Linked DNA regions of Homo sapiens. The protein of the gene in region 1 purifies or fractionates together with the protein of each later gene. This does not show direct contact. Each region holds a gene or a part of one and is shown on either strand. Other genes may lie near its edges.

What was found. Proteins that work in one complex are often made in the same cells at the same time.
Region 2: the proteins of TUBGCP5 (region 1) and NEDD1 purify together in Homo sapiens (affinity purification with mass spectrometry; 3 studies listed by BioGRID and IntAct, with this or other methods). This does not show direct contact.

Annotation. Positions count from the first base shown.
Region 1 is NC_000015.10:22,998,558-23,001,628, forward strand, and holds the end of TUBGCP5 (gamma-tubulin complex component 5), read right to left. Parts: intron 2,113-3,071; coding exon 2,012-2,112; coding exon of another isoform or gene 1,965-2,011; exon of another isoform or gene 1,727-1,964; intron 1,310-1,726; coding exon 1,263-1,309; 3' UTR 620-1,262; downstream 1-619. UniProt on the Homo sapiens protein: Component of the gamma-tubulin ring complex (gTuRC) which mediates microtubule nucleation.
Region 2 is NC_000012.12:96,931,079-96,938,256, reverse strand, and holds part of NEDD1 (protein NEDD1), read right to left. Parts: intron 3,282-7,178; coding exon 3,052-3,281; intron 1,647-3,051; coding exon 1,445-1,646; intron 1,060-1,444; coding exon 864-1,059; intron 1-863. UniProt on the Homo sapiens protein: Required for mitosis progression. Promotes the nucleation of microtubules from the spindle.

The DNA.
Region 1 (3,071 bases):
AATCGATCCTCCCACCTCAGCCTCCCAAGTAGCTGGGACCACAGGCATGTGCCACCATGCTTGGCTAATTTTTTTTTTTCGGAGTCTTGCTCTGTCACCCAGGATGGAGTGCAGTGGTACAATCTAGGCTCACCGCAACCTCTGCCTCCTGGGTTCAAGTGATTCTCCTGCCTCAGCCTCCCAAGTAGCTGGGATTACAGATGTGGGCCACCACACCTGGCTAATTTTTTTGTATTTTTAGTAGAGACGGGGTTTCACCACATTGGCCAGGCTGGTCTTGAACTCCTGACCTCAGATGATCCGCCCACCTCGGCCTCCCAAAGTGCTGGGATTACAGGGGTGAGCCACCGTGCCCAGCCCTTGGCTAATTTTTAAGTTGTTTTTGGAGAGATGGGGTCTCATATGTTGCCTAGGCAGGTCTTAAACTGCTGGCCTCAAGGAATCCTCTCACCTCAGTCTTTCAAAGTGCCAGGATTACAAGCTTGAGAAACTACACCCAGCCAAAATATAAACATTTCTAGGACAGCTACATCTAAGACAACTTTTAGGGAAGACAACATGTAAAACTCTATATAAAAAGCTTCTGTGACTGTAGGACAGCAGCAAAAGGATAATAAAATGATTTTAAGTCCTTTAATTTATTTTGAATATCAGTAATTACATTTTCAAAATATGATATAATTTAAAGGTATCAGTACCATAAATCTGTATCTTACAGTAGGAAATGTAAGAGTAAACAGCCTATATACACTTTGTACTACTGACACAATTTTATGTATACAACTCTATACAGTATCTACTAATCTCCAGAAAACCCACCTACAATCCATCTGTCTGGACTGTGGGCAAGTGGTTCTTTCTGAGTCAGGGTCTCACTCTGTCACCCAGGTTGCACTGCAGTAGTGCAATCATGGCTCACTGTAGCCTTGACCTCCTGGGCTCAAGTAATCCTCCCATCTTTGCCTCCTGAGTAGCTGGGACTACAGGTACACACCACCATGTCTGGATACATTTTGTATTTTTGGTAGACACCGGGTTTCACCATGTTGCCCAGGCTGGCCTCAAACTCCTGGGCTCAAGTGATCTGCCTGTCTTGGCCTCCCATCGTGCTGGGATTAGAGGCATGAGCGACTGTGCCAGGCTGACTGTGGACAAGTTTTACAAATAAACCAAAATAAAAATATTTTCACTTTTCAGCTGCACATGGTGGAAATGTACATGTATGATGACAAAGTCGGAGATATTTATTACGCTGAAGACATTTAACTTTGTTCCATGCCAGCCATGAGTGACAACGCTAGAGATTCCACTGTGGGAAGAATAAAAATAAGGTTAAAACAATAGGTTTAAATGTTGAAAAAAAATTTTTTTTGAAGACGGAGTCCCACTGTCACCCAGGCTGGAGTGCAATGGTACAATCTCAGCTCACTGCAACCTCTGCCTCCCGGGTTCAAGCAATTTTCCTGCCTCAGCCTGCTGTGTAGCTGGGATTTCAGGCATGTGCCACCATGCCTAGCTCATTTTTGTATTTTTAGCAGAGACAGGGTTTTGCCATGTAGGCCAGGCTGGTCTTCCAACTCCTGACCTTAAGTGATTCACTCAACCTCCCAAAGGGCTGGGATTAGAGGCATGAGCCACCGCGCCAGGCCAGGAGCTTTAAATTCCTAAAAAAATTTTTAAAAAGACTAGATTTTGAAAAGAAATAGTTACAAAAACTACACGATAGTGAAGTGTGACAGAAATCTATTCTGCCATCAACTTTATTTAATAGGAGTTTTAGAAATCTGTTGTAATAAATGGTATACCAGAAAGTAAGATCCTCAGGCTTACACTCACCTCACCGTAATGCTTAAAAAGCAATTCAAAGCATGGGACAACTGCTAAGGGACTTTTCAGTTTTGAAAATGGTGAGAATTTCTAATTCTTCATGGGATCAGTAACAAAACAATGACACATACACTTAGTTACAAGGAAATACAGAGGTAGAAATATTTTAACATGATATACTCACAATGGGGAAAGGATCCTCTACAGACGGCTTTGTTTAAAATGGTTACAAGAAACATATGGCAGTTTTTAAAATCAGATTCCATTTTCTCTATAGATTCCATTCTAGGAATAAAAGTAAATTTCAATTAAGTAAGTGCATTGCGGGTATATAGGTAGGCTTCAAGATATCTGTGGAGTAATTTCAAATGTATTTTGGTTTAATTATTTAAAATCCTAAATCTAAAGATTATAAAATAAAACACATAACGTCCTACCCTACTTTAAAATAAAAAATGTCAAAGTGTTTCAAAGGAAGTTTCATTAGGATATAAAACTGTGCTGTTTCCAGATAGTATCTAGTTCTGGAACTAGGAGGACCAAAGATACTCCCTTTTCCTTTATACAGTCTTGTTTTTATTGTTTACAAGCATACATTCTCTTTGAAATAAAGAACACATTAAGGATATAAAACTTAAAATCTGAAATTATTTTTAAAAAGGTTTTTTTTCTTTTTGAGATGGAGTCTTGCTCTGTCGCCCATGCTGGAGAGCAGTGGCACGATCTCGGCTCACTGTAACCTCCGCCTCCTGGGTTCAAGTGATTCTCCTGCCTCAGCCTCCTGAGTAGCTGGGATTACAGATGCCCACCACCATGTCTGGCTAATTTTTGTATTTTTTGTAGAGATGGGGTTTCGCCATGTTGGTCAGGCTGGTCTCGAACTCCTGACCTCAGCTGATCTGCCCCCACTGGCCTCCCAAAGTGCTGGGATTGCAGTTGTGAGCCATGGAGCCTGGCTGCCTTTTTTTTTTTTAGACAGAGTTTCGCTCTTGTTGCCCAGGCTGGAGTGCAATGTAGCGATCTCGGCTCACCACACCACAACCTCTGCCTCCTGGGTTCAGCAATTCTCCTGCCTCAGCCTCCCAAGTAGCTGGGATTACAGGCATGCACCACCACGCCTGGCTAATTTTGTATTTTTAGTAGAGATGGAGTTTCTCCATGTTGGTCAGGCTGGTCTCGAACTCCTGACCTCAGGAGATCCGCCCACCTCAGCCTCTCAAAGCACTGGGATTACAGGCGTAAGC
Region 2 (7,178 bases), on another chromosome or scaffold:
TGATACAGATATTCACAGGAAATTTATAGTGAATATACTTACTTTAAAATACTACTCCACACTATCAAGATCAACAAATTAAAGTTTTGCTTCTACTTGGAAATAGCAAAATCATGCTAAAAAAAAACACCAATAAATATTTTTGCCCAAGTATTTATCCTGAAAAATTTAAAAGACATGGATATATGTATTTCTACTAAGCACAATATTTCAGAAACATACTAGTATACCATGTAGACTTTCTAAAGTATTTGTTGCACGTTGACAGTATAGCATAACTTCTTAAAATAAAAATGAAAAGGTTTTCAGGAATTTACAGAATATTTTTTTATTGTGAGCAAGAAATATTTTCTACAATAAGAGAAAGCTTATCATATAACACATCAATAAAGTCTAAATGAATCCTGTTTCAGAACTGTTTCGCCAATTACATGAGAGAAGAAGAAATCATTAGAAATTGCAACATTCTCATTTATTTTTATTTAATGAGATCAAATCATAAGACAGTGTCAAAGTTTCATATTTTCTACTGGTTAATCTGAAGACACAATGAAAAGCCATTCAGTCTTTAGTAGTATTAAGGATGAATAATTTCTGAGTTAGCCTCCTTCCATTTTTAAGACAATATTTCTCACAAGAGAAGTTTAGCTAAACAATAAGGGCCTTTTATCATTTTTGAAATTAATAGCCAAAGTTACTATTTTCACTTCTTCAATGATTTTCACTTCTACTAATTTTACCTAAGTACTCAAATAAATTTGAGTTCTATGTTCTTGAAGAATGTGCTAATTATATGCAAGCCAAAAACAAAAAAACAAAAAAAAAACAAACCAACCCTCCAACAATATATAAGCAACATTTACCTGCTTTTTCTTGAACAGCAACTGTTCCTTTCCCCATAGCTGATGTCATAGGTTGTGGTAGAACTGTGGCAATGGACGTGGCAGGTGCTTCTCTGACAATTCCGGAATTCTGAACTCCTCCACTAGCAGCATTCACATTAACACTTCGTTTGTTCACTGTTGTGGGCTTATTTGAACAGCCTTTATTTAAACTTGACTGAAATGTAATGGAATATTTAAAAGCTCAGGTTACTAATGTTTCATACTATACATTAATATTTTATAAATTCCCTGTTAGATTAAAAAATATATTTTTTTCCTTGCAAATCTTAAGCTTGCTGGCAGACCTGAGTTTCCCTCTAAATTAAAATGTCTTTTAAAATACTTTTAAAAAGAGAGATATATAAGGAGAAAAAAAAAAGAAAAAAAGTTTTAAAACTAAATATCAAATGGCTTTGTACTAAAATTATTATACATTACATGTAAAATCATTATGTAATTATGAAACAAAACTATACTGTTTAATTGACCACATATAATTTCCATATTCTGAGTTAGATTTATTTAATAAAATAAAAAATGCTGAAAAGAAAATGTCTCACCTTAGTAAGAACAGTGGAGTACTGAAATGCTATACACTGCACAGATGTCTTGTGAGCACTGATGGTCTTAACTGGTGATTTCAACATTCTTAAATCATATTGATATATTTTCCCCCGGGAAGATCCAATAGCCAAAGTGGCTCCATCAGGCATGAAATCTACCGCAGTTAGAGGAGTGTCAGCCACTAAAGTTTTCACTAGCCTTTGGAAAGGAGAACAAAGTATGTGTAGAAATGTTAGTGTGTACAGGTATATTAGCTTATATAAGTAACTATATACCAAAACCAGAGTTATTAACACTTCAAACTGGTCAAAGAGCACACATATCCCAAATATTTGTTTAAAGCATAATTTCAGAATTTGACTTAGAGACATTTCTAATAAAATGGCATATAGAGAACTGCTAAACATTCCATCTTACTTTTCTATTCACTTCCAATAGGTACATTCTGCATCTTATAGAAGCAGCACCTATTTCTTTAATTATTACTCTGACAGTGAATGTAGCAGAACTGTCTATTACGCCACAAACAGGGGCTCTGGCCTCATGGTTGAGGAGGGCCTAAGTATCCACTTTCCATTTATTGACCTGCTTAGGCCTCATGAGGACTATGACCTTTCACAGGGGAGCAGCTGTTACTTTGTTCTTAGTTGTACAGTCTTGGCCAAAAAGCTAAGAGGAACACAGTTCACATGCTTGATCCTTAGGAAGCTAATAAAGAAATACGGATGGTGATCTGCTGAAGCTGAGCTCTTTACTGGTGTGTATAGTAGAAAAGAAGAATGGCTTACTGGGCTCTCAGTAAATTGTTCCATAAAAGAAGACAGCAAATAAGTCCTAACAGTAAAAATTCTAGCATCATAATAAAGGCTGACAGTGGGACCTTCCCTTGTAGTAACATTCATACTCCACATGATCTACAGACAGTGGTAAGCATCTTGAATACAACTGTATCACTCTTGCATTCTTTTGTTTTTGTTTTTGTTTTTTAGCTAACTAAGCATACCTAAATTTAACAAGAAGAGGGTACAGTGGGCCCAAATGCTTAGAGGATTATGTACACCAGTACATAATCAGTATTTCTCAAGTGGGTGCTCCCAGGTTGTCCCTGGTTACTACCAGGGGACATCTGACAATGTCTGGACACAATTTAGGCCATTGGTATTTAGTAAGCAGAGGCCAGGGATGCTGATGAATATCCTACAATACCCAGGACAGCCCCTCACAACAAAGAATTACCCAGCCCAAAATGTCAATCGTTTCTAAACCTTCCTCTAGATAATTAATCAGTTTTAAAGCAAATTAATCATTTGGGTTAAAAACATATGCATTTTATCATATTGTGGAAAAGATGCTAAAATTAAAATGTGAAATCATTAAGATGTCATCTCTCTATGTTCATGTTTCAGAAGTACCCTAAATACTACCTGCAACCCATCTATTTCTTTCTGCATAAGAAGAAAATTCTTTCTTACTAGATCCATCAACTGTACAAACTTTAGGACCCCTGGACACTAATCAGAGGTCTATATAAATCACAAATATGCCTGTTAATGGAATAATAGCTATTTGTTACTAAATTAAGAAATAAGCATGTCACACTTACTTCTTACTTGAAGTGTCATAGAGGATGATTCTTTTATCCAAGCCTATGGTTACAAAGAGCAATTCATTGACAGGAGAAAAACAGATGCCTGACGCTGGAGCTTTGTGTACACTGTCAAAGTTATGGTATGGACTCTGACTATTTACATCCCAGAGAGTTACTATTCCATTATCCGAAACACTGCCCAGTAGTGATTTCTTAAACAAGGAGTACTTCAAGTGCCGAACAGACTATAAAAATGAAAGAATAAATTTTATGTAATTATAAGCATTCATAAGGACATTTGATATAAGCCATATAAATTATGGCCAACCACACTATTCACATGGGGTTTAGGATTTCTCTGATGTGTAAGAGTGACAGGTTTCAGCCAGACGTGGTGGCTCACGCCTGTAATCCCAGCACTTTGGGAGGCCGAGGCAGGTGGATCATCTGAGGTCAGGCGTTCAAGACCAGCCTGCCCAACCTAGTGAAACCCCATCTTTATTAAAAATACAAAAATTAGCTGGGCATGGTGGCAGGCGCCTGTAATTACAGCTACTTGGGAGGCTGAGGCAAGAGAACCACTTGAACCTAGGAGGTGGAGGCTGCAGTGAGCCAAGATCACACTATTGTACTCCAGCCTGGGCGACAGAGTGAGACTCTGTCTTAAAAACAAAACAAAACAAAACAAAAAAACCCAACTCTGTCTTAAAAAAAAAAAAGAAAAGAAAAGAAAAGAAAGGGTAACAAATTTCAATCATGACAACCACGGTGTCATTCAGTGGACCATAAGATGACATACCAATACCTGAAACATACCAATCAATAGCCTATTAATATTTGTCATTTTATTATCTTGGAGTATAGCTACCTCAATCTTCTCCTTTCAGAGGAAAAATATAATACATTGAGATTATCTACATTAATTCATCAGGGTTAGAACATCCACCATATATAAAAGGCCTTGTCACAGTCAAATCAACAAGTATAAGGGAATACTGGGAGAAAAAAAAAAAGCAATAATATTTTGTATTTGTTTTCTATATTTTAGATATTTTGATACATTTGTTTGAATCTGAGCATCTGATGCACTGACAATTCAACACCTGAAGCATAATTTAAAAAAAAATTAAACCACAAAGGAAAAACTGGCAACACTCTAGACTGGGGATGGACTATATCCATTGTTTCAAAACCATTAGCCTGAGGGCAATGCTGGCCTTTCTCTAAACACAAATCCCTGCAGGTAGTGGAGATATTCTCTCTTCCTAGCTTCCATGGACCAGAATAAACAAAGATCTAGTTTGAATAAACTGATCTTAGACTAAAACTAACTGAATTTTATCTACTTTTCTTTTTTACTAAAATGTTACTGTCAAACTTGTATTGATGTTGTCATTTACTAGGCGGAAAATTAAGTACTTTACATTTAAGCTAATTTTTCCCTATGAATTTATATTCTACTTAATTCTAAAATGTCTCAAATAATATATATTAGCTCTCAACAACAACAAAAAATGTCTAGGAAATACAGAAACCAAATGCTAAGAAAAAAAAACAAAAAGGAGTTATTAGTCACCTGGCACCTAAGTTAAGACAATTAATATGTTAACCCATTAAATTTGCCCATTTTCATATGGCTAAAGTACAAAGAGAAAATGTTGGTTTATATAATTTTTATTTTTGTTGGGAAAAAGTATATCCACTTGAATAGTCAAATCTTTTCTCTGGTCCATATTCAAGAAAAAATAAACTACATGAATGTTAACTATATAAAAGACACAGACCTACTTAGTGCATTATGTTAATGATTACAGAGTCATACACAACATATCAAAATATAAGGCAAAACATGATTTCTAAAAAGATTTCTACAGCACTTTAGGAGTTCATATAGTTATCGTCCTTCACATGATCTAAATTTAGACTAAATACACAAGTAGAATTTTTAAAAACACCATAAAAATCACAGACCTGGTAGATTCTCGAAGTTCATAAAGTTTAACCTCTTAGCAACAGCAGGAATTTTCCTACAACATCCTTAAAACATGGTTATCCAGAATCTGTTTGCATCTATCAAACAACAAGGAGCTTACCACTGTCTTTAACACAACTTGATAACCAGTTAAAAATGTATTCTTGATCAAGACAAAACCTAAATTCTGTATCTTACTTCAAGTTCTTGGGACCTACATGGCAGACTATTTAAAAAAAAAAAAAAAAAGGCTAAAGATAATGATAAATGTTCCCTTCAGATAAACCTAAGTTCAGTGGACGCTCAGCAAACCTCTGTATGATTTAGGTGAATTACTTAAACTCTCCAAAACTCAGCGTTCTCATCTACATAATAGAAAACACTCTTGTTTTCCTGACACAATTATTTTGAGGATTAAATAGCATTTCTGTACAGAATCAGGTACACAGTAGCCATCACCATTTCCAGAAGTTCATAACTTACTTGCTCATCATTGCTTATGTACCCACCATTCAACCATCTTTTACATATTTTTTAAAAGACCCTTAAGTAACCACATTGAATTCTTTAAATGTCTCCAATTATTTCTGTGATAATACTAACAGAATTTCATTTCTTAACTTTCTATATCTGTTAAATCTTCTCTTTAGAATATCATTAAGATATTAGCTAAGAATCCTGGATAAACAAAACACTGATTTACTAAATTATATATATATAATTTATATATATAAATATATTTACTTGTGTGTGTGCATTTTATATATATATATATATATATATATTTTTTTTTTTTTTTTTTTTTTAAGAGACAGGATTTTGCCATTTTGCCCAGGCTGGTCTCAAACTCCTGGACTCAAGCACTCCACCTGCCTCAGCTTCCCAAAGTGCTGGGATTACAGGTGTGAGCCACCGCACCTGGCCTCCAAATTATATTTAAAATAAATATTAACTTATTTCAGTATCAGCAGCACTTAAGTCATTAACTCCCTATCTTGTTCCAGACTAAATTATTTATAAGAAAAGAATTAAATCAAGAAGCTTATGGGGGGGAAAAAATCCCGGCAGTATAAGCAGCAATGCTATTTTTTCTTATACCACATTATTGTGTAAGAATGTTGCATGTTTGTGGAGGAGGGAGATTGTTTCTAAATATAAAAAACATACCACTCACTAAAGGTGGGGGGAAGGTTTCAAAAACTTATTTAGAAGTAGTTACAGACAATATATAGATGAAAAGCATGGCTGTGTTCCAATAAACTTTACAAAAATAAGTTGGCTAGACCATAGGTTATAGTTTTTCAGTCTCTACTAAGATAATTATTTAATAGAAAAAAATTTTTTTTATCACAAAGAAGAAAAACCATCCATAATCCCACTACCCAGAGAAAAAGTGGTTGACATTTTGAGGGGGTATCCTTTAAGTATTTTTCTGTGTGTATGTATGCTTCTGTGTATTCAGTAGAGTATCAACAGAAAACCTGGAATCATACTTCATTATAAACAGCCATGTCAATGTTTTCTACTTGATTTTAATAGCTGTTTAAGATATGAATGCATGAGTATACTAATTTACCTAAATAATATCATGTTAGACATTTGGGTTACTTCTGATTTGCAAGTACTCTGATTACTATCCTTTTTTAAAACTGTTAATTTATGAAAAAAATTGTAATTCATTGATGTTCATGCCTTAAAGGTTCTCAGTTGAAAATATGAAATGACTATTTGTCTTTCTTCTTTTGCAAACTGCTCATTATTCTACTTTGCCTATTTTCTATTGGGCTATGAAGATTTTTAAAATACTAATTTGCAACTGCTCTTACATTGCAACTGCTCTCATACATTGTAAATACCTTCCCTATTTCATTTAAATTTTGTGAATTTTTGCCTTGCTTTTTGTCAGAAGTTTTAAATTTTTATATATTTATATTTATCAAACTTGTTGCCAGTGACTTATAACTATACTTCTTTATATTTATGCTTAGAAAAGCCTTCCCTTTGCACAGATAAGAACATACATTCACATCATTTTCTTACTAGGCACTATAAAGCAGTAAGAAATTAATACAAACATCTTAACATACATATGAACATACACACATATATATGGCCATAAATATAGTGTTCCTTTGACTCCATCCTATCTTCTTGATTCCCAGGGCCTTAC